2 separate regions of the Homo sapiens genome follow, and region 2 is linked to region 1. The links come from fine-mapping of genetic effects on gene expression. Tissue or cell type: aorta. Region 1 holds a variant in brackets; the other region holds the start of a gene. All regions are shown on one strand. Distances are between the middles of the regions. Region 1 overlaps TUBGCP6 (tubulin gamma complex component 6). Region 2 holds the start of MAPK12 (mitogen-activated protein kinase 12).

Evidence for each region. PIP is the estimated chance that this variant, and not a neighbour inherited with it, causes the effect. A credible set is the group of variants that fine-mapping cannot tell apart.
Region 2: MAPK12 starts here. The variant in region 1 is the best candidate, but not a certain one, in a credible set for the expression of MAPK12 in aorta (GTEx, PIP 0.55).

What each region holds. Positions count from the first base shown.
Region 1 is chr22:50,225,986-50,237,411 of GRCh38, reverse strand. It overlaps TUBGCP6 (tubulin gamma complex component 6), which reads left to right. Exons shown (of 25, transcript NM_020461.4): 3 at 3,886-4,096; 4 at 7,835-8,008; 5 at 9,384-9,505; 6 at 10,335-10,413; 7 at 10,570-10,679; 8 at 11,034-11,125; 9 at 11,223-11,362. Among named protein-coding and RNA genes, the nearest start is that of TUBGCP6, 13 kb to the left of the region's middle. The variant C/T (reference allele first, on the strand shown) is at 8,276.
Region 2 is chr22:50,256,235-50,268,091 of GRCh38, reverse strand. MAPK12 (mitogen-activated protein kinase 12) reads left to right here and starts at 6,409. Exons shown (of 12, transcript NM_002969.6): 1 at 6,409-6,707; 2 at 6,796-6,925; 3 at 9,791-9,849; 4 at 10,899-11,010; 5 at 11,128-11,157; 6 at 11,446-11,493. The coding sequence starts at 6,583. MAPK11 (mitogen-activated protein kinase 11) reads left to right here. Exons shown (of 12, transcript NM_002751.7): 2 at 143-272; 3 at 465-523; 4 at 610-721; 5 at 806-835; 6 at 918-965; 7 at 1,044-1,158; 8 at 1,481-1,552; 9 at 1,787-1,866; 10 at 2,432-2,510; 11 at 2,598-2,771; 12 at 3,065-4,379. The coding sequence ends at 3,144. RefSeq lists silencers at 240-309, 6,071-6,120, 6,131-6,440, 6,471-6,840, 6,991-7,170 and enhancers at 5,292-6,023, 7,593-8,093, 8,818-9,390.

The sequences.
Region 1 (11,426 bases):
AAGTTCCTTTGGCAAATCGTTTGGTCTTGTTTCATTTTAAATCCCAGCCACCTGCTAGTTTCCTGCTGTGATGAGCTCTGACCAGCAGGTGGCTAAAGAAACTGCCGCCTAGCCAGAAATTGAGCCTTCTCCACTCTCCAAGACATCAACCCTGCTTTCCCACAGGTCCCAAGACCCCACGGGGGGCCACTCGCCCCTGCTGTTGCCCACCCTGAGAACCACCATTGTCCGACTGCTCACGGCCCTCCCTGCTGCTGAGCTGCAAGGGCTGGGTTAAGGCGGAGGGAGGCCTTTCAGACCCTGGAATGGTCTCTTTCTCTGCATGTGCCACCCATCTGGGGGAAGCATTTTGCTACATTTTGGGTTGTGTTCTCTCTGGGGACCTGTTGGGGCGGGGGGTGTTCACTCCAGAGCCTGCAGGATCCTGCGCTGTGTCTTTGTGTTTCCGCTGTGGGCTTTTTTTCCCTCAGTTCTGAGTCACCAAGAGGGGTGTGCAGCCATGGCAGTGCTGGGGGCCAGTCCTGGAGGAGATGGGGTGGAAGTGGCTGCAGGGGGAAACAGGGTTGTGCCCACAGCCTGCACCCCTGCCGAGGCCATCTGCAGGAAGAAATGCAGGGGGCAGACAGAGGCTCTGAGAGGCTGTGTCTTTCTCATGCTCATCTCATCCTGAGGGAGCCTGGGCAGGCGTCTGGGGTCCAGAGCGGCCCCACCTGCTGACTGGACATCTCAGGGCTGGTCTCCTTCCTCCTGCCCCCTCCAGCCCACCCTCTTCATAGCAGAGGTGGCCAGTAAAAGTGTGTTTCTTGGAGCTGATTGTTTTCGCAGGGAGGACGGGGGTGTGAGTGTGTGTAGTGCCAGTACATGTGGTTTCACAGCCTCAGCACCAGCAGAAGGCAAATTTCCTCAGAGTTGCATGTGCCCAGGGCTGCCTGTACCAGCCCACCTTACCTGTTACTGTCTTAAAAATTTGTGAACTTAGCCAGGTGCAGTGGCTCACGCCTGTAATCCCAGCACTTTGGGAGGCTGAGGTGGGCGGATCACGAGGTCAAGAGATCGAGACCATCCTGGCTAACACGGTGAAACCCCATCTCTGCTAAAAATACAAAAAATTAGCCAGGCATGGTGGCCCGTGCCTGTAGTCCCAGCTACTCGGGAGGCTGAGGCAGGAGAATGGTGTGAACCCAGCAGGCAGAGGTTGCAATGGGCCAAGATCGTGCCACTGCACTCCAGCCTGGGTGACAGAGCGAGACTCCGTCTCAAAAAAAAAAATTGTGAATTTTTTTTTCTGTATCCATCTCTTACGGTTTTTCTGAGGTGGGGCAGTAAAATTTATATAATGTTTTTACCGTCTTAACCAGTTGTACAGCTTTGTAATGCTGTGTGTATTTTCACTGCTGCACAGCAAGTCTGCAGGAAACTCTGAACCCATTAAACAGCTCCCCATTCACTCCACTTTTTTTTTTTTTTTTTCCGAGATGGAGTCTTGCTCTGTTGCTCAAGCTGGAGTGCAGTGGCACGATCTTGGCTCACTGCAACCTCCACCTCCCGGGTTCAAGCCATTCTCCTGCCTTAGCCTCCTGAGCAGCTGGGATTACAGATGCCCGCCACCACGCCCAGCTAATTTTTGTGTTTTTAGTAGAGTCAGGGTTTCACCATGTTGGCCAGGCTGGTCTTGAACTCCTGACCTCGTGATCTGCCTTTCTTGGCCTCCCAAAGTGTTGGGATTATAGGCATGAGCCACCGCACCTGGCCTCCACTTTCTGTCTCTAGGATTTTGGCCACTGTAGGGACCTCATGTAAGTGGAGTTGCACAGTGTTTTGTGATGGCTCATTTTACTCCACTTGGCGTCCTCGAGCGCCGTCCCTGTGGAGACAGTGTTTTGTGATGGCTCATTGCACTCCACACGGCGTCCTTGAGTGCCGTGCCTTCTGGAGCACGTGTCTGAGCTGCCTTCCTTTTTAAGGCTGAATGATGGGCAGGGGTCTGCACGGACGGTCTGTGTTTATCCTCCTCTGTTGGGGGCTCAGGCTCCTCTCCCCCTGGCTGTTGTGGATGTTGTTGCCGTGGACGGGGGTGTGGATGCTGCTGTGGACAGGCATGTGGATGTTGCCGTGGACAGGCATGTGGATAGGCATGTGGATGTTGCCGTGGACAGGGATGTGGATGCTGCCATGGACAGGAGTGTGGATGATGCTGCCGTGGACAGGGATGTGGATGATGCTGCCGTGAATAGGGGTGTAGATGCTGCCATGGACTGGGGTGTGGATGCTGCCATGGACACGGGTGTGGATGATGCTGCAGTGGATAGGGTTGTGGATGATGTTCCCATGGACAGGGGTGTGGATACTGCTGTGGACAGGGGTGTGGCTGATGCTGCCGTGGACAGGGGGTGGATGCTGCCGTGGATAGGGGTGTGGATGATGCTGCGGTGGACCTGGGTGTGGATGCTGCCATGGACGGGAGTGTGGGCGATGCTGCCGTGGACCTGGGTGTGGATGCTGCTGTGGACAGGGGTGTGGATGATGCTGCCATGGGTGTGTGTGGGTGATGCTGCCAGGGACAGGGGTGTGGGTGATGCTGTCGTGGACAGGGGGTGTGGATGATGCTGCTGTGGACCTGGATGTGGATGCTGCTGTGGACGGGGGTGTGGGTGCTGGTACCATGGGTGGGTGTGGGTGATGCTGCCGTGGACAGGGGGTGTGGATGATGCTGCTGTGGACCTGGGTGTAGATGCTGCTGTGGACGGGGGTGTGGGTGATGCTGCCGTGCACAGGGGGTGTGGATGATGCTGCTGTGGATAGGGGTGTGGATGATGCTGCCGTGGACGGGGGTGTGGGCGATGCTGCCGTGGACCTGGGTGTGGATGATGCTGCTGTGGAACTGGGTGTGGATGCTGCTGTGGACAGGGGTGTGGATGCTGCTGCTGTGGACGGGGGTGTGGGCGATGCTGCTGTGGACCTGGATGTGGATGATGCTGCCGTGGACTTGGGTGTGGATGCTGCTGTGGACAGGGGTGTGGATGATGCTGCCGTGGACCTGGGTGTGGATGCTGCTGTGGACAGGGGTGTGGATGCTGCTGTGGACAGGGGTGTGGATGATGCTGCCATGGGTGGGTGTGGGTGATGCTGCCATGGACAGGGGTGTGGGTGATGCTTCCGTGGACAGAGGGTGTGGATGATGCTGCTGTGGACCTGGGTGTAGATGCTGCTGTGGACGGGCGTGTGGATGATGCTGCCGTGGATGGGTGTGGGTGATGCTGCTGTGGATAGGGGTGTGGATGATGATGCTGTGGACAGGGGGTGTGGATGCTGCCATGGATGGGGTATGGATGATGCTGCCATGGACAGGGGGTGTGGATGATGCTGCAGTGGACCTGGATGTGGATGCTGCTGTGGACAGGGGTGTGGATGATGCTGCCATGAACAGGGATGTGGATGCTGCCATGGACCTGGGTGTGGATGCTGCCATGGACAGGGTGTAGATGCTGTTGTGTACATGGGTGTACAAATCTTGTTTTGTTTCTAACAGAAGAATACTTTATGAGTGAATCACCATCTTGAGGGCCACTGGCGTGGCCTGGGGTGCTCTTCCAGGGCTGGGCCAGTCGGATACCCCCGGCCATGCCCAGGACCCCAGGAAGGTGCCCTGGAACACTTTCCACATGAGTTGTCCTGATAGAATCGATCGTGCTGGTATTCACAGCAGCAGCATCCACAAAAGGCTGGGTGGTGAGCTGACATTCATACCTGGCTATGTTTCTTAGAGTTTATTGTTTTGAATCACTTCCATTCTTCTGTTCATGCCCATTCCCGAGAGAAAGCACCCTGGTGCTGAGGTGCAGGTCACCACGTCTGCTCATGGCCTCTCTTCTGCACCCCTCGCAGCCCCCCTGGCCACAGAGAGGAGCCTTACCTGACGGAGGCGGGAAGGGACGCTTTCGACAAGTTCTGCAGGCTCCACCAAGGGGAGCTCCAGCTGCTTGCTGGGGGCGTCCTACAGGCCCCGCAGCCCGTGCTGGTGAAGGAGTGCGAGCTGGTGAAAGACGTGCTGAACGTCTTGATTGGGGTCGTGTCTGCCACGTTTTCGCTCTGCCAGGTGAGAACTGCTCACTCCCCGCCACAGTGGTGTGGGGCTGGCCTGCCCTCCACCACGCAGTGCCCAGCCCTTTATGGGGCAGAACAAGCCCCAGTGCAGGGAGTGGGGAGTGGCAGGGAAGGCCAGCTCCCAGGGCCACCAGTGATGACAGCCAGCATCATCCCATTTCGGTTCTAAAAAGTGTTAATTTATTAATGTCCTTTTAAAAAACTGCAGAGAAATAACATGTTTATTGCTGTCAGCAAAGCGATAGAAAATGTTCCTCCCCGCATTTCCATTTCCGTCCTGAAGTGCCAGGCGCCTTCCGAGCCTTCCCACCGCTCGGGAGGAGCATCTGCCTGCCGAGAGCGTCCCGAGACTGGGGCCTGCGCTGCTCTTCTCACTGGATGCGGTGTCATCCGGGATGGGGCCGGGCCTTACTGGTTCTGGCACCAGCTGCAGTTTAGCCAGCCCTCTTGCTGGGCACTGGAGAAGTGAATGGATATATTCAGAAAAATGAAGTCTTGCTCTGCAGCTTTTTCATTTAAGTGCTCATCCCCTTCCTTTGTCTTAAATGTTCTTTTATGGTGGCCATTCTTAGACTTCAGAATGGACTAGAAGCACAGCCAGTGACTGCCCCAGAAAAGTGCTCACCAGCAAGCTCCAGCTGCTGCCGGCGCTGAGGGCGCCTGTTCTCAACACCGTGCTCACAGCTCATCTTGTCTGTTGTGGGGATAGCCTTATTGTGTGGAACCAACCCTGACTCTCTTTTTTTTTTTTGAGACAGGGTCTCTCTCTTGCCCAGGCTGGAGTGCAGTGGCACCATCACAGCTCACAGTAGCCTCGACCTCCTGGGCTGAATCTCAATCCTCCCACCTTAGCCTCCATGTAGCTGGGACTACAGGCACGTGCCACCACACTCAGCTCATTTTTTTCTTTTCTTTTTCTTTTTCTTTTTCTTTTTTTTTTTTGAGACAGAGTCTCGCTCTGTTGCCCATTCTGGAGTGTAATGGCACGGTCTCGGCTCACTGCAAACTCTGCCTCCCGGGTTCAAGCAATTCTCCTGCCTCAGCCTCCCGAGTAGCTGGGATTACAGGTGCATGTCACTACGGCTGGCTAATTTTTGTATTTTTAGTAGAGACGGGGTTTCACCATGTTGCTCAGGCTGGTCTCTTGACTCCTGACCTGAGGTGATTTGCCCACCTCAGCCTCCCAAAGTGCTAGGATTACAGGCATGAGCCACCACGCCCGGCCCACCCAGCTAATTTTTAAAATGCCTGAAGAGATGGGGTCTTGCCGTGTTGCCCAGGCTGGTGTTGAACTCCTGGGCTCAAGTGATCTGCCTGCCTCAGCCTCCCAAAGTCCTGGGATTGCAAGTGTGAGCCGCCACGCCCGGCCCCTACTTTTCATTTCTGATTTTAGTAACTTGATTTTTTTCTCTTGTTTTCATAGTCATCTTTTCTTTTTTTTTTTTTTTGAGACGGAGTCTCGCTCTGTGGCCCAGGCTGGAGGGCAGTGGCGCGATCTCGGCTCACTCCAAGCTCCGCCTCCCGGGTTCACACCATTCTCCTGCCTCAGCCTCCCTGAGTAGCTGGGACTACAGGCACCCGCCACCGCGCCCGTCTAATTTTTTGTATTTTTAGTAGAGACGGGGTTTCACCATGTTAGCCAGGATGGTCTTGATCTCCTGACATTGTGATCCGCCCGTCTCGGCCTCCCAAAGTGCTGGGATTACAGGCGTGAGCCATCGTGCCTGGCCCTAGTCATCTTTTTTCTTAATTATTCTAGCTAAGACTTGTCAATTTTGTTGATCTTTTCAAAGAGCCAGCTTTTTGTTTGGTTCTCTCTATTGTTTTTCTATTTTGTATTTTTTTTTTCTTTTTGAGACGGATTCTCACTCTGTCGCCCAGGCTGGAGTGCAGTGGTGTGATCTCAGCTCACTGCAGCCTCCGCCTCCTGGGTTCAAGCGATTCTCCTGCCTCAGCCTCCCAAGTAGCTGGGACTACAGGCATGGACTACCACGCCTGGCTAATTTTTGTATTTTTAGTAGAGATGGGGTTTCACCATGTTGACCAGGCTGGTCTCAAACTCCTGACCTCAAGTGATTTCACCCACCTTGGCCTCCCAAAGTGTTGGTGTTACAGGTGTGAGCCACTGTGCTTGGCCTACTCTGTATTTATTTCTGCTCTAATTATTTTTTGTTTCCTTCTGCTAGTTTTGGGTTTAACTGCTTTTTTTTTTTTTTTTTTTTTTTTGAGATAGAGTCTCGCTCTGTTGCCCAGGCTGGAGTGCAATGGCGTGATCTCAGCTCACTGCAACCTCTTCCTCCTGGGTTTAAGCAATTCTCCTGCCTCAGCCTCCTGAGTAGCTGGGATTATAGGCGTGCACTACCTCGCCCAGCTAATTTTTGTTTTTATTAGAGATGGGTTTTCACCATGTTGGTGAGGCTGGTCTCAAACCCCTGACCTCAAGTGATCCGCTTGCTTCGGCCTCCCAAAGTGCTGGGATTACAGATGTGAGCCACTGCGTCCAGCCTGTTTTTCTTTTCTTTCTTTTTTTTTTTTTTTGGAGACAGGATCACCCAGGCTGGAGTGCAATGGCTCAAACATGACTCACTGCAGCCTCAACTTCCTAGGCTCAAATTGATCCTCCTGCCTCAGCCTCCCGAGTAGCTGGGACCAACAGGCATGCACCACCACGGCTGGCTAATTTTTAATTTTTTTTTTTTTTTGAGACGGAGTCTTGCTCTGTCTCCCAGGCTGGAGTGCAAAGGCGTGATCTCAGCTCACTGCAACCTCTGCCTCCCGTATTCAACAATTCTCCTGCCTCAGCCTCCTGCGTAGCTGGGACTACAGGTGCACGCCACCATGCCTGGCTAATTTTTGTATTTTTAGTAGAGACGGGGCTTTGCCATGTTGGCCAGGCTTGTCATGAACTCCTGACCTGAAGTGATCCACCTGCCTTGGCCTCCTGAAGTGCTGGGATTACAGGCGTGAGCCACCATGCCTGGCCTAACTTTTAAAATTTTTTTAGAGATGGGGGTCTTGCTATGTTGCCCAGGCTGGTCTCAGACTTCTGGGCTCAAGTGATCCTCCTGCCTCAGCCTCCCAAAGTTCTGGGATTATAGGTGTGAGCCACTGTGCTTGGCCTAACAGCTCTTTTTAAAATATCTCTTTAGGGTATACACGGTGCTGTTGTGGTTTGGTATCTTGTTCCTTTGTATTGCGGGATATTTTTTTTCCTTTCTAACGTGGGTATTTGCGGCTGTAACCTCCCTTCTGGCTTCTGCTACACCCCATTCGTTTTGGTTGTCATGAGCCCTCTATTGGGGGTCTCCACTCTCTGGTTATAAACATACTGTGGAGAATGTCCTGTGGCGAGTCTTTGTGCATCTTCCATCATTTCTCTAATTCATCCCGAAGAGTCAAATGAGCGGGTCTCACGGCCGTCATGTTTTATAGCTTCTGCCCCAGGAGGCTGTCTGTGTACTTGTGTCCTGTGGAAGGTGTTCTGTTTTTTTCTACCCTTTTCTACACTTGGCATTTTAAACATGTATTTTTCAGTGTGGTCAGTGAGGATTTGTGCCTCGGTTTGGTCCCTCGGTGTGGGAGTTCTGGGTATGCCTTCTGGGCATTTGCTTTTGGGTCCTGGAGGCACTCTAGGTGGCGTGGGGTTGGGTGCAAGGGTGGAGGGAGACGGCACCTTACTGGGGGTCTGGGTGCCTGGCCTCTGTGACCAGTGTCCTCTGCCCCTGTGCAGCCGGCCCAGGCCTTTGTGGTGAAGCGGGGCGTCCACGTGTCAGGAGCGTCTCCCGAGAGCATCAGCAGCCTGCTCTCGGAAGTGGCCGAGTATGGGACCTGCTACACGCGCCTGAGTCATTTCTCTCTGCAGCCCGTCCTGGACTCTTTGTACAGCAAGGGCCTCGTGTTCCAGGTATGGCCTTTGCCTCATGGTTGTCACACACCTTTGTGAGAACGGTGCACACGACCTGGAAGAGAGAATCTCAGAGGTCCTTCTGCAGGACCAGAGAGTCTAAACCTTTTCTTTCCTTGCTAACATCTGAAACCCGATAGTGGCTCTTGAGGGATGGGTCAGTGAGGATGTTTTACCTCACTAGAAACTTGGGGCAGATGTGTGTGGGCCCTGGGCTGTGTGGGCCCTGGGGTGTGTAGGAGGCAGGTGCAGCCAGCATAAGGGGTG[C/T]GCAGGGCAGGAAAGGCGTGAGTGGGGCTCTTGCTGCCTGCTCCCCAGTGGGCCCGGCACATTGTGGATGACTGACAGCGCAGGGCCCTCCTGTTGGGTGAATTTACATTGCTGGGAGTTCTGAGCCAAGTCTGGCTCCGGAAGCTGCTGTTTGGTGAGTCTTGAAGCTGGCTCATGTGCTGGGAAGAGGCCCATGGGACAGGGGCTGCACCTTGAGTGGGAGAGAATAGGCAGGTGGATGATGGGGCATTTGGGTTTGGGGGATTGAGAGGAGGGTGTTGGGGAAGGTGGGCAGAGAGCCCTGGAGGAGCCAGGCAGCGCAGCCTCCTTTGACTGTTGCTGCTGCAGCAGGGGCTGTCGGGTGGGGTGATGTGGTGAGGTGTAGGTTTTAGATGGGCTGTGGAGGTGGGCATGGTGGGAGCTGCACGGGGCGGGGAGAGCTTCTAGGCAGAGGCTCAGCCCCGGGGGACTTGAGAGCTAGAGATGGTGGAGAAGGGGTCAGAGCAGGGGACGCTGAGAAGGGCTGGACTGTGGTTCTTGTTCATCTGGCAGGCATAGCCAGGCGGCTCCTGGGGTGGGTGGACTGAGATTGGTCCAGGGTGCCCCTGTCTTAGTGTGACCTGCAGGGCCTGCTGCTGTGGCGTTGCCCAGGATGCTGGTGCCACTGAGACAGCTGTGGTCGGAGCAGCTGCAGCCCTCACAGCACTAGTGTCTGTGCACAGAGCACGGCCGCCATTTCCCCCCCAGCCCCTTTGCCATGCCCCTGGGGCAGCTGGGCTCAGATGAGAGGAAGGGTTGGTGGTGGGCGCCCCTGGGGCAGCTGGGCTCAGATGAGAGGAAGGGTTGGTGGTGGGCGCCCCTGGGGCAGCTGGGCTCAGATGAGAGGAAGGGTTGGTGGTGGGCCACAGCTTCTGGCTTCTTGTGGATGGGCCGCATTTCCACCTGGCCCGGTGGCGGGGTGTGGCTCACAGAGGCCCATTGCTTGGAAATGGAGCCCAGAGCTGAGGCAAGAAACAAAGCGCTGTTCCCAGCACTGGTGCCCCTCAGGCCCTGGGCACGGCTGCGTCCATGTGCCTGGCCGCCCTCCTCCCAGCCTCTTTGCCCACAGGCCTTCACCAGTGGCCTGAGGAGGTACCTGCAGTATTACCGGGCCTGCGTCCTTTCCACTCCGCCCACCCTGAGCCTCCTCACCATTGGTTTTCTCTTCAAGAAACTTGGCCGGCAGCTCAGGTGAGCCTCAGCATGGCGGCTGAGCAGGGGACTTTGCGGGAGCGGTGTGGGGCTTGCTGGGTGGTGGAGGGTTTGCCCTGCTCCCTGGCAAGGAGGGCCTGTGAGAACAGCCCTCAGCAGGCGACCGGATGGCCCTTGGCCGGCCGAGTTCACCAGGTGCCCGGTGCTGAGCGGGTGTGTCTGCCGTGGGCCCACCACAGCTGGCCCCATCCAGGCCCTCCAGGTCCGGTGGCTCCTGCCTAATTGGCACACAGGGTCCCTGGAGATGTGGCGTCCGGTACACACAAGCTGGTTAGTGAGCAACCAGGCTCGGGGGCTATTGGCAGGTGCCATCAGAGAAGGAAGAGTGAGGAGCTGGGCATTGGGAGCAGTGGGAGAGGCGACCTTCCAGGCTGAGGAGCAGAGTGTGGCAGCGCTGAGGAGACCCAAGGGCTGAGACACTGTGGGGCAGGGGAGCTGGGCTGTGAAGGGTGCGAGTTGTGGCAGATGCTTGGTACCACTGTGTGGATGGGAGGGGCTCTCAGGTGCAGCCCCCAGAAGTGGGAGGATCAGGGTGATTCGTGTGTTGGCCAGATCCTGGGAGGGAGGGCCTGCTGGGTGTGGGTACTTCAGTGGGGTGTGTGTGGACAGCGCAGGGGCACAGGGCTGCACACGAGTCCTGCAGGGAGCCCGTTTCTGGGTGGTTGGGGTGCCTGTGGTTTTTAAAGCCTGCATCTAAAGTTAGTTGCCCCAGGGAGCATAAAGATACGTGGAGACTTTGCTCACGATCTGATCCAGGCCTGGGAACCCTGAGCCCGGTCACCTGGTCTCATCCTGCCTCTGGGTCTAGGTACCTGGCCGAGCTCTGTGGCGTTGGCGCTGTGCTCCCGGGCACCTGTGGAGGAGGCCCCAGGGCCGCGTTTCCCACCGTGAGTTGTGCGTCCCTGCCGAGTGTGTCAGCCTGGTGGGCTCCAGGAAACGGGGGTGGCTGAGCGTGTCCCTGGAGGGCTGCTGCCGGCAGGGCTGCGCCTCACTCCCAGCGCTGGGTGCGCTGAGCTGCCCCCCACCCCCTTTGCGGTCTGCAGGGCGTGAAGCTGCTGTCCTACCTCTACCAGGAGGCTCTGCACAACTGCAGCAACGAGCACTACCCTGTACTGCTGTCCCTGCTGAAGACCAGCTGCGAGCCCTACACCCGGTGGGCAGTGGGCTGGGCAGGCGCGGCGGGCGCGCACTCCCACCAGGCAGACACTTGAGAGCGGTCCCTTGTCAGACACCTGCTGAATGTGGGGGTCACACAGGAAGGGGAGGGCAGGATAGGTGGACTGGGCAGGAGCCCCCAACCCCCCACCCTGCCCCCACTCCACACCCCCCACCCTGCCCCCACTCCATCCCGCCCCTCATGGATGGCCACACCCCACTCCACCTCTCACAGCTACGCCCCCACTTGCCCCTCACTGACAGCCACGCCCCTGTCCCACCCCTCACTGACAGCCACGCCCCACCCACCTCTCCGTTGACCACATCTACCCCTGCTTTTCCCCCACTGCAGGTTCATCCACGACTGGGTGTACAGCGGGGTGTTCAGAGACGCTTATGGCGAGTTCATGATTCAGGTGAACCACGAGTACCTCAGCTTCCGAGGTAGGTGGCAGCTGATTGCGGGGCAGGGGTCCGTGCCTGTGGGCCTGGGTTCAGGGCCATGGCCATGCCGGCCACCGTGGTGTTCACCCTACCTTAGATAAGTTGTACTGGACACATGGCTACGTGCTCATCTCCAAAGAGGTGGAGGACTGTGTTCCCGTGTTTCTGAAGCACATTGCCCACGACATATACGTCTGCGGAAAGACCATTAACCTGCTGAAGCTCTGCTGCCCCCGGGTGAGGAGGGGCTCATGTGTGGGGAAGAGAGGGGCCGGTCTTCCCTGGGGCTGAGTATGAGGCT
Region 2 (11,857 bases), 30 kb before region 1:
AGCTGGGGCGGCGGGGCCGGGGCAGAAAAGCCCCACGGCCCCATCCCCACGGAGAAGCGGCGAGAGGGACGCCGCCCGGGTCCACGCGCGTGCGGCCGCCCTCGGACCCCTCCCGGCGCCGCCTCACTCGCCCGCCTTCCAGTTCGGCCTACGACGCCCGGCTGCGCCAGAAGGTGGCGGTGAAGAAGCTGTCGCGCCCCTTCCAGTCGCTGATCCACGCGCGCAGAACGTACCGGGAGCTGCGGCTGCTCAAGCACCTGAAGCACGAGAACGTGAGCCGGGGGAGGGCCGTGGGGGGAGGGCGCGTGCGGGGGCGGGGCCGCGGCGCAGCCAATAGGCGGGCGAGCCCTGGCGATGGGGGCGGGGACACAGGGGGCGCGGCCTGGCACTGGGGGCGTGGCCCGGGGGGAGCTGAACGACAGCCGGGGGTTCGTCGCCCGGCCCTGACGCCCCCCGCCACCTAGGTCATCGGGCTTCTGGACGTCTTCACGCCGGCCACGTCCATCGAGGACTTCAGCGAAGTGTGAGCGGCGGGGCGGGCGAGGCAGCGGGGAGCGCGTTCGCGGTGGGGCGGTGGGGCCCTGTCCTGACCCCCTGACCCCGCCCCAGGTACTTGGTGACCACCCTGATGGGCGCCGACCTGAACAACATCGTCAAGTGCCAGGCGCTGAGCGACGAGCACGTTCAATTCCTGGTTTACCAGCTGCTGCGCGGGCTGAAGGTGGGGCGCCCTGGGCTTCGCGGGTCCTCTCGCAGGGGGGCGGGCGGGCCGGGCCCGGCGCTCACCACAATCCCCCTCCCGCAGTACATCCACTCGGCCGGGATCATCCACCGGGTAGGTGCGACCGCAGGGTGAGGGTCGGGTCCAGCAGGGCTCCGTCCCAGCCTCCTGTGCTCACGCTCCGCGTGACCTGCAGGACCTGAAGCCCAGCAACGTGGCTGTGAACGAGGACTGTGAGCTCAGGGTGAGGCCCGTGGGCAGGGGTGGGCAGGGCGGCGGCGGAGCCCGTGCGGAGCTTGAGAACACCACGTGGTCGCCCCAGATCCTGGATTTTGGGCTGGCGCGCCAGGCGGACGAGGAGATGACCGGCTATGTGGCCACGCGCTGGTACCGGGCACCTGAGATCATGCTCAACTGGATGCATTACAACCAAACAGGTGCAGGGGGAAGGCCTTGGGGGGACGAAGGCCAAGGGCCTCGTCTGGCCCTCGACTGGCTCTGCATGCCAGGTCTTAGGGGGCAGGCAAGGTCCCCAAGAATGTGGGACCCACATTCAAAAGTAGCCCTTCAGAGGCCGCTAGAGCATGATGGGTGCTGGCCTCCTCTGGCTGTGCAGCTATGGACCTCCCCCTGCCTAGGGGGGTTGGGTATGGCAGAGGAGGGGGTCTGCCCATCTTGGGGTCTGGATGTGACTGTGGGTCTCCTGGAGGAGGGACGTGGGGTGGGCACACTGATGGAGGTCCCCTCGCCCTCGCACAGTGGATATCTGGTCCGTGGGCTGCATCATGGCTGAGCTGCTCCAGGGCAAGGCCCTCTTCCCGGGAAGCGACTGTATCCTTGGCCCAGGTTGGGGAGCAGGGTCAAACAGGGCCCCTCCTGTAGGGTAGGGACCAGCGCTGGCCCCTTCTGGCGGGTCTTGCCTCCTCTGCCCCCCATGCTATGCTACTTTGGGCTGGCCATCCTCACCTATAGGAGAGCGGGCTCTGGGCAGCGCCCCAAAGTTTTGGGTCTGGGGGCCCAGGAGGGGTCTGTGGCTGGCCCGTGGGTGTTTCCTGAGTGACACAGACATTGACCAGCTGAAGCGCATCATGGAAGTGGTGGGCACACCCAGCCCTGAGGTTCTGGCAAAAATCTCCTCAGAACACGTGAGTTGGTGCCCGCCAGCCAGCAGCTCCCTCTCCTGGCTGAGCCCCCAGGCTCTCTGGGGGAGAGGGTGGTGTGGAAATGCGGGGACCATATGGGGAACATGGGATGTGGTGGGATAGAGCCTAGGGCAGGTGCCCAATCCCTGCAGGGGAAACAGGAGAAGGGGGAAGACATTCCTGACACCAGGGACAGTGAGTGCAAAGCCATGACCCCAGCAAGCAGTGCCTGGCCAGGGCAGTGGGGGTGGGCTGGGGGCCCAGCAAGCAGTGCCTGGCCAGGGCAGTGGGGGTGGGCTGGGGGACCCCAGCAAGCAGTGCCTGGCCAGGGCAGTGGGGGTGGGCTGGGTGGAGGGAGTGTACTTGGACCCAGCTCCTGCAGGCATTAGGGGCCAACTGAGGAGCTAGAACCACCAGATCCTATATGGAGGGGGTCACTGGTCTGCCTGTGCCCTTGTCCTGGCCTGTTGGAGTGAATGAGTCTGGGGGCTTGCCAAGAGAAGCCCCAGTTTGGGGCCAGGGAGGCAGAGAGTGAGCAGCCTCCCCAGGTGTTCTTGTGTGCCCCCAGGCCCGGACATATATCCAGTCCCTGCCCCCCATGCCCCAGAAGGACCTGAGCAGCATCTTCCGTGGAGCCAACCCCCTGGGTGAGGACTGCCCTGGGCTAGACTGGGCTCCATATCTGGCCCTGGATGTACAGCTGACCCCCCTCCCCACCACTGGCTTCCCTGCAGCCATAGACCTCCTTGGAAGGATGCTGGTGCTGGACAGTGACCAGAGGGTCAGTGCAGCTGAGGCACTGGCCCACGCCTACTTCAGCCAGTACCACGACCCCGAGGATGAGCCAGAGGCCGAGCCATATGATGAGAGCGTTGAGGCCAAGGAGCGCACGCTGGAGGAGTGGAAGGGTGAGCATGGCAGTGGCTGGGGGTGGGTCCAGGGGCCTGCGGGCTCCATTTCCCCAGAGGCAGGAAATGCCCCAGTTCCTCTCCAGACTGGTCAGGTGTGGAAGGGCGTTCAGGTGTCCAGCACAGGCTGGGAGCGGGGCGGAGGAGTGACACAGGGCAGGTTCTGGCTCCCAGACTGTGCTGAGGCTGCTGTCACAGGGTGGTGGGCCTGGGCTGGGTGGCAGGTGCCAGACAAGCAGGTGAGGGGCCGGGCTGTGGGAGGCACAAGCTCACCCTTTCCCTTCACCTCCTAGAGCTCACTTACCAGGAAGTCCTCAGCTTCAAGCCCCCAGAGCCACCGAAGCCACCTGGCAGCCTGGAGATTGAGCAGTGAGGTGCTGCCCAGCAGCCCCTGAGAGCCTGTGGAGGGGCTTGGGCCTGCACCCTTCCACAGCTGGCCTGGTTTCCTCGAGAGGCACCTCCCACACTCCTATGGTCACAGACTTCTGGCCTAGGACCCCTCGCCTTCAGGAGAATCTACACGCATGTATGCATGCACAAACATGTGTGTACATGTGCTTGCCATGTGTAGGAGTCTGGGCACAAGTGTCCCTGGGCCTACCTTGGTCCTCCTGTCCTCTTCTGGCTACTGCACTCTCCACTGGGACCTGACTGTGGGGTCCTAGATGCCAAAGGGGTTCCCCTGCGGAGTTCCCCTGTCTGTCCCAGGCCGACCCAAGGGAGTGTCAGCCTTGGGCTCTCTTCTGTCCCAGGGCTTTCTGGAGGACGCGCTGGGGCCGGGACCCCGGGAGACTCAAAGGGAGAGGTCTCAGTGGTTAGAGCTGCTCAGCCTGGAGGTAGGGGGCTGTCTTGGTCACTGCTGAGACCCACAGGTCTAAGAGGAGAGGCAGAGCCAGTGTGCCACCAGGCTGGGCAGGGACAACCACCAGGTGTCAAATGAGAAAAGCTGCCTGGAGTCTTGTGTTCACCCGTGGGTGTGTGTGGGCACGTGTGGATGAGCGTGCACTCCCCGTGTTCATATGTCAGGGCACATGTGATGTGGTGCGTGTGAATCTGTGGGCGCCCAAGGCCAGCAGCCATATCTGGCAAGAAGCTGGAGCCGGGGTGGGTGTGCTGTTGCCTTCCCTCTCCTCGGTTCCTGATGCCTTGAGGGGTGTTTCAGACTGGCGGCTCCAGTGGGCCAAAGGGCAACCACATGAGCATGGGCAGGGGCTTTCTCCTTGGATGTGGGACCCACAGCAGCTTCCTGAGGCTGGGGGTGGGTGGGTGGGTGGTTTGGCCTTGAGGACGCTAGGGCAGGCAGCACACCTGGATGTGGACTTGGACTCGGACACTTCTGCCCTGCACCCTGGCCCGCTCTCTACCTCTGCCCACCGTTGTGGCCCTGCAGCCGGAGATCTGAGGTGCTCTGGTCTGTGGGTCAGTCCTCTTTCCTTGTCCCAGGATGGAGCTGATCCAGTAACCTCGGAGACGGGACCCTGCCCAGAGCTGAGTTGGGGGTGTGGCTCTGCCCTGGAAAGGGGGTGACCTCTTGCCTCGAGGGGCCCAGGGAAGCCTGGGTGTCAAGTGCCTGCACCAGGGGTGCACAATAAAGGGGGTTCTCTCTCACTTGGCTTGTATCCAAAGGCTACTCCAGGCCCGGGTGCCCCCACCATCCCTGCTGCTGGGCGTGGGGGGAGTGTCTGGGTCATCCTGCATCACTCACCTCCAGCTGGCCAGATCCCTCAGGCCCCCAGTCAGACCAGCGGCCATCTTCTGGCACCCTCCCTGCTCCCTGGAGGGTCTGAGAGCCCAGGGGGACCAGGGGAAGACATGGCTGATGGGCAGACTTTGAGGGCACAGGGTGTGACAGCCACCCAGATGGTGACCCCAGCTGCCCTGTGGGGATGTACTGGGCAGGCTTGGCTTTGGGCCAAGATCCAGACACCACCCCCGCCTACCCCTCAGTGTTCAGGGAAGCTGGCTGGGGAGAAGTTGGGTGTCTCAAGGAGCAAGGGTCTGCCCATCCCTGGGTGGGGGCTGGGCAGGGTAGGGAAAATAGCTTTCCTTTCCCTCCTGGTGAAGGAAAAAGAGGCCACTTTAACCCAGGGAATGTGCACGCTGGTCCCGTTCCCACTACGCGCTGCAGCTTATGTGTGGGGGAGGGTCCAGGCCATTTGGGGTCAGGCAGTGTCTCTAAGGACCAGGGACAGTCTGTGCCCTTGCTTGGGTCTTGGGTAGGGGTGGAAACCGTCTGGGAGTTGGGGGCCTCCTGGGGCCTGGTCAGTGTAGTGGTCAATCCCGGGGGAAGTCCAGTGTTGGCGGTTGGGGGTGGGAGGAGAATGGTGACACAGCCCCACCTCAGAAGCCTGGTCCGTGCAGGGCCTGCTGGACCCCTGAGCCCCACCACGGGGAGTAAGGGGGACAGCGTGGAAGCTGGGCTTCCTGGAAGAGGTGGATGGAGTGCCACAGGCAGCCCAGGGCACAAAGGGTATGGGCCACAGGCAGCTGTGGTTTGGGTGGCCCTGGGCTGCCCCGCTCACTGGTCACGAGCTGGTGAATGCCGTGGAGCACGGCCCAAGCCCAGGTGTAAAGCTACTACCACCCTTGAGCGGCTGAGCTGCTGATTCATGGCAGGAGGGCGGGGCAGAAGGCCCTAGGGATCCTGTTACCCACCAGCCCAGTGGGCTCCTGGGGTGCCCCAACATCCCTTCTGAGATCCAGGTTCCTGGGCTGGTGAAGGGGTGTCAGGGTGGGGCTTTGCCCTCAGGAGCATCTGGTCCAGGATGGGGCCAGACCTATGGGAGGACAATGCCCACACAGAGGGGTCAGGCGGAGGGCCCCAGCAGGTCCCCATCCCTGCTGGAGAGAGTGCAGCCACTCTCAGCCTGGGTTTTGCAGGACAGGACAGGCAGGGGTGGGATGGGCAGAGACACCAGTACTTGCAATGCTTGGAGCAGGCACCCCACAGATGGGGGGAGCAGGGGGAGGAGCTGGGGGTCCAAAAGGGCCCACGGGGACCTATGGGACTGAGAGGCCCGGGGTCAGTGGCCACAGGAGTGGGGTTGGGGATGCAGCCTGAGGAGTTTGGGGGACAGACCCCTCCGTGTAGAAAGAGGGATACAGGCAGGACAGGTGCAGATGGACCCCTTGTTGGGGGACGGATGGATCAGGCTCAGTGGTAGGGCATCCTTGGGGGTGGCCTGCGAAGTTGACCCCGGGAACACAGGGCTCAGCCCGACTTGCGGCTGCCATAGAAGTCAGCGCTCAGGCTGTCAAGGATGGGCCCTGCGCCCTGGAGCCGTGGGGAGTTAGGACTGGAGCGGGCGGGGGGGGGGGGGGGGGGCTCCTGCTGAGACCCCCCCAGGGCGGGGAAGTTCAGCCAAAGGGGAGAGGCTGGCAGAGGTATCTCCGCGCCGCGTCCGGCCCTTTATGGGGACGAAGCTGCGGGGCGGCGCTCCCCTCCCCCTGCGCTTCCCCCCAGGCTCCGGCCCTCCCCAGGCTCCGGCCCTCCCCCGGCGGCGGCCGCCTCGGGTTTCCGGAGGGGCCGGAGGGCGGGCGAGGGCGTCACGTGCGCGCCGCCCGCGGGCCGGTTGGTCCCCGGGCGGGGGAGGGGCCGTGCGCAGCCTGGGTCGGGGTCGGGCCGGGGTCGGCACCTGGGACATCCCTGAGGGAAGGGCCGGGAGCGGGAGCGCCCCAGCGGCCGGCGGGCGGGCGGGCGAGCGGACGAGCGGCGCGGAGCCGGCCCGAGGCGCGCGCCGAGGGAGCCCCGTCCCCGGTCGTGGGGGCACCGCCCGCAGGCTCTGCGGGGTGGGCAGCTCCCGGGCCTGCCATGAGCTCTCCGCCGCCCGCCCGCAGTGGCTTTTACCGCCAGGAGGTGACCAAGACGGCCTGGGAGGTGCGCGCCGTGTACCGGGACCTGCAGCCCGTGGGCTCGGGCGCCTACGGCGCGGTGTGGTGAGCGCGGGCCGGGCGGGGCGGCCGGCGGGGCGGGCGGGGCCTGCGCGGGGTGCCCGGCCTTCCCGCTAAGCGGTCCGCCCCGCAGCTCGGCCGTGGACGGCCGCACCGGCGCTAAGGTGGCCATCAAGAAGCTGTATCGGCCTTTCCAGTCCGAGCTGTTCGCCAAGCGCGCCTACCGCGAGCTGCGCCTGCTCAAGCACATGCGCCACGAGAACGTGAGTCGCGCGGCCCCGCTCCGGGAAGGCGCCGCGGCCTCGGCTTGGTTCAGCTGGGCTGGGTTCCCCCACCCGGCAACCCCTCCTCCAGGCAGCCTGCTGTGGGGCCGGGCGGGGGTCGGGCCGTGGGTCCCCAGGGGAGAAGGAGAGCAAGGCCTGTCTCTCCTTGGGAGACGACTCCCCCAAGGGCCGTTCCCCATCCTCCGCCAGCCCCGGGAAGGACTCAGCCCCTTGACTCGGCGCCTCAGCCAGGCCCTGGTCAGGGAACACGACTTGGCCAGGCCCAGGGGATCCTCCAGGTCTCACGCCAAGCCTTGCCCCCAGCCAGGAAGCCCGCGGTGAGAGCATGCTCCCGGCGGGAGGATTTTCCTGGAAGGGGCACCTTCCCTCTTCCCCATCCCCTTTCCAGCCCCTCTGTGGAGCCCACTCTGCTGCTGTCCATCTCCCGAGTCTTCCGACCCGGTGGTGGAGGGGGAGGAGGGGGGCGCCAGAACGCAGGGAGTGTGTTGAACCCTCAGGAGCCCCTGGGGGTGAAGGGTTTAGGGAGCTGCTGTTTGAGGAGCACTGGGCGTGGTGGCCGCCTCACAGACACCCTCCTGTGCGTTGTGGGGGCCCATCCTTTCCAGTCCTTCCAGTGAGATGCCACGTACAGCTGCCCTGGGCCTCTCCCATGGCGGTGGCTGGCTGCTAAGAACCCGATCTCTCTGCCAGGGGTGCTCTGGTTTCTGGATACAGTCCCACTTGTCCACTGCCCCCCACGTCACTCCTGCCCTCCCCCTGGTCTGGGCCCAGCCTGAGGGCTGGTGGTCTGGGCACCCGGACCCTACCTACAGGGTGAGATGCTCTGGACCCTCCTGGGTCATCTGAGCCACCGGTGCCTTGGGAGAACGAGTCCCTGCGTCCACCAGCAAAGTGCCCCGTCCACCAGCAAAGTGCCCCGTCCCCCGGTTCCTGGCCACCGCTACTCCCTCAGCCCCTTGGATGGGTCTTTTTCTCTGAGGCTTCCCATGCCCACCCTGACCCCCAGCTCACTACCCTGGGCCCTGTGAAATCCATTTGCAGTGGACACCAGCCCTGCCCGCACCTCGACACCCCGTCACACCCAGCCCTGCCCCCACTTCGCCGGCACCGCACCCCCCCACCACCCGCCCATCACACCAAGGCCTTGCCCCAGGACTGCAGCCTTCCCCACGGCCCCCTGCTCCCACCCACCCACTCACCCACCCGTGCCTTGCCCCATCCAGCCAAGCGCTCTGGGGCTTTTTTTCTTTTTTTTTCTTTTGAGACCGAGTTTCGCTCTTGTTGCCCAGGCTGGAGTGCAATGGCACGATCTCAGCTCACTGCAACCTTCGCGTCCTGGGTTCAGGCGATTCTCCTGCTTCAGCCTCCTCAGTAGCTGGGATTACAGGCGCGCGCCACCACGCCTGGCTAATTTTTTGTATTTTTAGTTGAGATGAGGTTTCACTATGTTGGGCAGACTGGTCTCGAACCCCTGACCTCAAGTGATCTGCTCGCCTCGGCTTCCCAAAGTGCTGGGGTTACAGGCGTGAGCCACCGCGCCGGGCTCCACCGGGGCTTTTCTTTAGCCACCGCCCCGCTGTGCTGGGATCTCCGCTGTGCCTGTGGGCCCACCCCCTGGGCTCCTGGCCTGCAGCTGAGGCTCTTTCCCTGGAACCCCATCTTCCTGGGAGACTGAAGCTCTGTGAGGCCACGTGCCTTGCTCAGCGGGGGAGGAGGCTCTGCCACAGGCCTCAGTCCTGCCAGGCCGCCTCCCTCTCCAGGCCAGCCCCCATACCACAGAGGCCAGGCCAAGTCCTGTGGCCCCTAGCCCACAGGACCCTGCTCTCCGTCTTCTGCTAAAGCACTCTCCCGGGCACCCTCCAGCTCTCATGTCCACAGTCCCCGCTGCCCCCTGGACACCCCCTCTGTTCCCTCTCCTCCTCCCTCCACATTCTTGCCCATGGCTCTGGCCCACGTGGCTCCGGCGGAGCTGTCCTTCCAGCTTGTGTCCATTCTTACCTCACTCTGGCCGGTTCCTACACCACGGCCAGGAGGACGCATTTAGCCTCACGTCCCCATTTAAATCGTCCCCGTCTCTTGGGATCAAAGCCAAACTTCCACCTGGTGTGTGCTGCCCTGCCGGCTCCCTCTGGCCTCTCCTCAGCCCCTCCCTGGCCTGGGCCTCCGCCACCTGGCCTCCCTCCCTGTATTCTTCAAACTATCCAAGTGTGCTCCCTCCTGCCTCGGCCACTCTGTGTGTGCCCTCTGCCAGGTGTCCCGCAGCCCACATGTCTACCTGCCCCTCCACCCTTGGCTGTGCAAAACTCCAGGCCTCCCTGGGACCGTCACCCCAAAATGCTGAGGCGGCAGTTGTCACATGACCTGTCTACTGTCTATCTCCCCAACCAGGGGTGCTGAGGGGACCAGGTCTGGTGGGTCACGGTGCTGTCCGCCTGGGCCTCACCAGCAGAGGCCTGGCCTCTTTCCATAGCGCTGTCCCCACCCTGGGCCTGGATCTGTTTGGTTGGGGTGAAGAGGGGTGAAAGGGTCAGGCGGCAGGAGCCCTTTGGATGGTTCGGAGCCATCCCAGACTCCGGGTTGCCCCTCCCCCAGAAGATCCCGGTTGTCACCGTCCAAAAATAACCTTTCTGTGGGTATGTGTGCCAGGGCTGGGCCACACTGCCAGTGGGTATGTGTGCCAGGGCTGGGCCACACTGCCAGTGGGCAGAGCCAGGCCCTTTGGACAGTGGGGCATGACAATGACAGCTGCAGAGGGGGTTTCCTGCCCAGAGGGTTGTGCCACTCTTGGGGGGTGCCCCAGCCCGTGTCCTCTGCTGCATTCTCAACCCTATGTGGCCCCCCCAGGTGATCGGGCTGCTGGACGTATTCACTCCTGATGAGACCCTGGATGACTTCACGGACTTGTGAGTGCCGACCTGGGCTGGCCGCTGGGCACGAGGGGTGTTGGGCAGCTCTGGGCACTGGCTTCAGGTTCTAGGTTGGCAATGGGGTTCTCTTCCTGCAGCCTGAGTGGGGGATGCACACCGCCCACCCCCTCCCCATACCACTGTCCACCCCACGCCCTCCCCCACATGGTCCTGGGACCCACGGGCACTGGCACAGCTGGGCAGAGCTGGGGCTGCTGCCTCTCTCCACGCCTGGCACCTGGGCCCTCTCCAGCACCGGAGGTGTGAACCTTGGACCTGACCATTTGTTAACAGGAAGGTCCCGTGCTCGGGACCCTGGCACCAAGTGTGTGGCCGGTAACTGGAGCTGCTGACCTTTTCCAGCGGGTGGGGGAGAAGCGGTAGGGAGGACCCACCCTGCCCCTGCCCTGCAGCCGACCACCCTGGGACTCACACCCTGTCGGCCAAGAGTGAAGGGCCAGGCCGAGGAAGGCCTGGAGAGGGTAGCAGGCGCCTCCCGCCTGACTTGCAGAGGTCAAGTCAGTGGCCTCTGGGAAGGTGCTAAATACCATTCTCCTGTGTCTGTCTCCACCGGCCCAGCCGACCCCTCTGACCCAGATGCCTTGCCGCGCCCCCATCGCCCCCAGGCACCTCCCTCATTTCTGGCACAAAGTTGTGAAGTTGAAACCTGACTGCCTCCCTCCCCTGCCTGTGAAGACTCGAGTCCTGCTGCCTCTACCATGGAGCCTCAGCCCCTAGCCTGGCACGCAGGGCGCTTCAGCGGAGGGTTCAAAAACCCCAAGGCAGCCTCCTCCCTGCCTGACAGTCCTCAGGGTGGGAGGGGGGTGTGAGCGCTGCTGGCAGTAACAGTTGCGGGAGGATGGAGCCTGGCACTGCAAGGTGGGGCTGCGAGGACACCGAGGCCAGTGTGGATGTGTGCTGCAGGGGTGACCTTCCTGGGGGTGCCTGTTGGATCCGGGACGGGTCTGAGCCTGGGCCTGCTGGGTGGGTCTCTGGGATGCAGAGGCTGGCTCTGTCCGCTGACAGCGCTCCGGCCCCTCCCACAGTTACCTGGTGATGCCGTTCATGGGCACCGACCTGGGCAAGCTCATGAAACATGAGAAGCTAGGCGAGGACCGGATCCAGTTCCTCGTGTACCAGATGCTGAAGGGGCTGAGGGTACGGGCCCCGGGGGAGGCTGCAGGGAGGCAGGCAGGGCCTCGGGGCTGGGCAGAGGAGGGCCCTGTGGCTCTGAGAGGGTGCGCTGAAGCCTGCCAAATCCTCTGCCCCCCGCAGTATATCCACGCTGCCGGCATCATCCACAGAGTGAGTCCCGGTGGAGAAGCCGCTCATCAGCCCTCCCCCAGTGCAATCCCCCCGCCTCCACGTCCCACCTGTGAGGATGTGATGGGGTCTGGGTGCTGAGCCACGCCCTATGCACAGCCCCTGGTGGGAACCTGCCTGGGTGCCCAGGTACCTTGGTCTGCCCTTGAAGGGCTGCAGAGAGCAAGGGGGCCAGGTCCGGTGGCCCCATCTTTAGGTGCCACCCAGGCTCTTGGCTGTGCCCATGCTTGGGAGGGTGGGGCACAGTGGCCACCTTTCCTCTGCCCCCAGGACCTGAAGCCCGGCAACCTGGCTGTGAACGAAGACTGTGAGCTGAAGGTGTGTGCTGCCTGGCAGGGGGCCCTGAGGTGGGGCAGGGGCCCCCTCTGGATCTGCCCATCTATCCACCTGTCAGGCCTGGGCAGGGGGCCAAGGTCCCAGGCTCTGGGCAGTGGCTGAGGAGCTGGTGGGTGGGTGAGCCCAAGAGGCAGTGGTACACAACATGCCGTACCCAGGGCACCTGCTCCGTCCCGAGGGCTGCTGGGCTTGGTGCACTGGCCAGAGGGAGGAGCTCGGGGCAGTTTGGGGTCCGAGGGCGTGGCCTCAAGTCCTTGAAGGTTGTCAGGAGGCCCCAGCTTGGGAGCTTCAAGTCCAACCCCCCGGGGTCTCCTGGACCGTGGGTGGCCTGTCCGCTCCTTGGGAG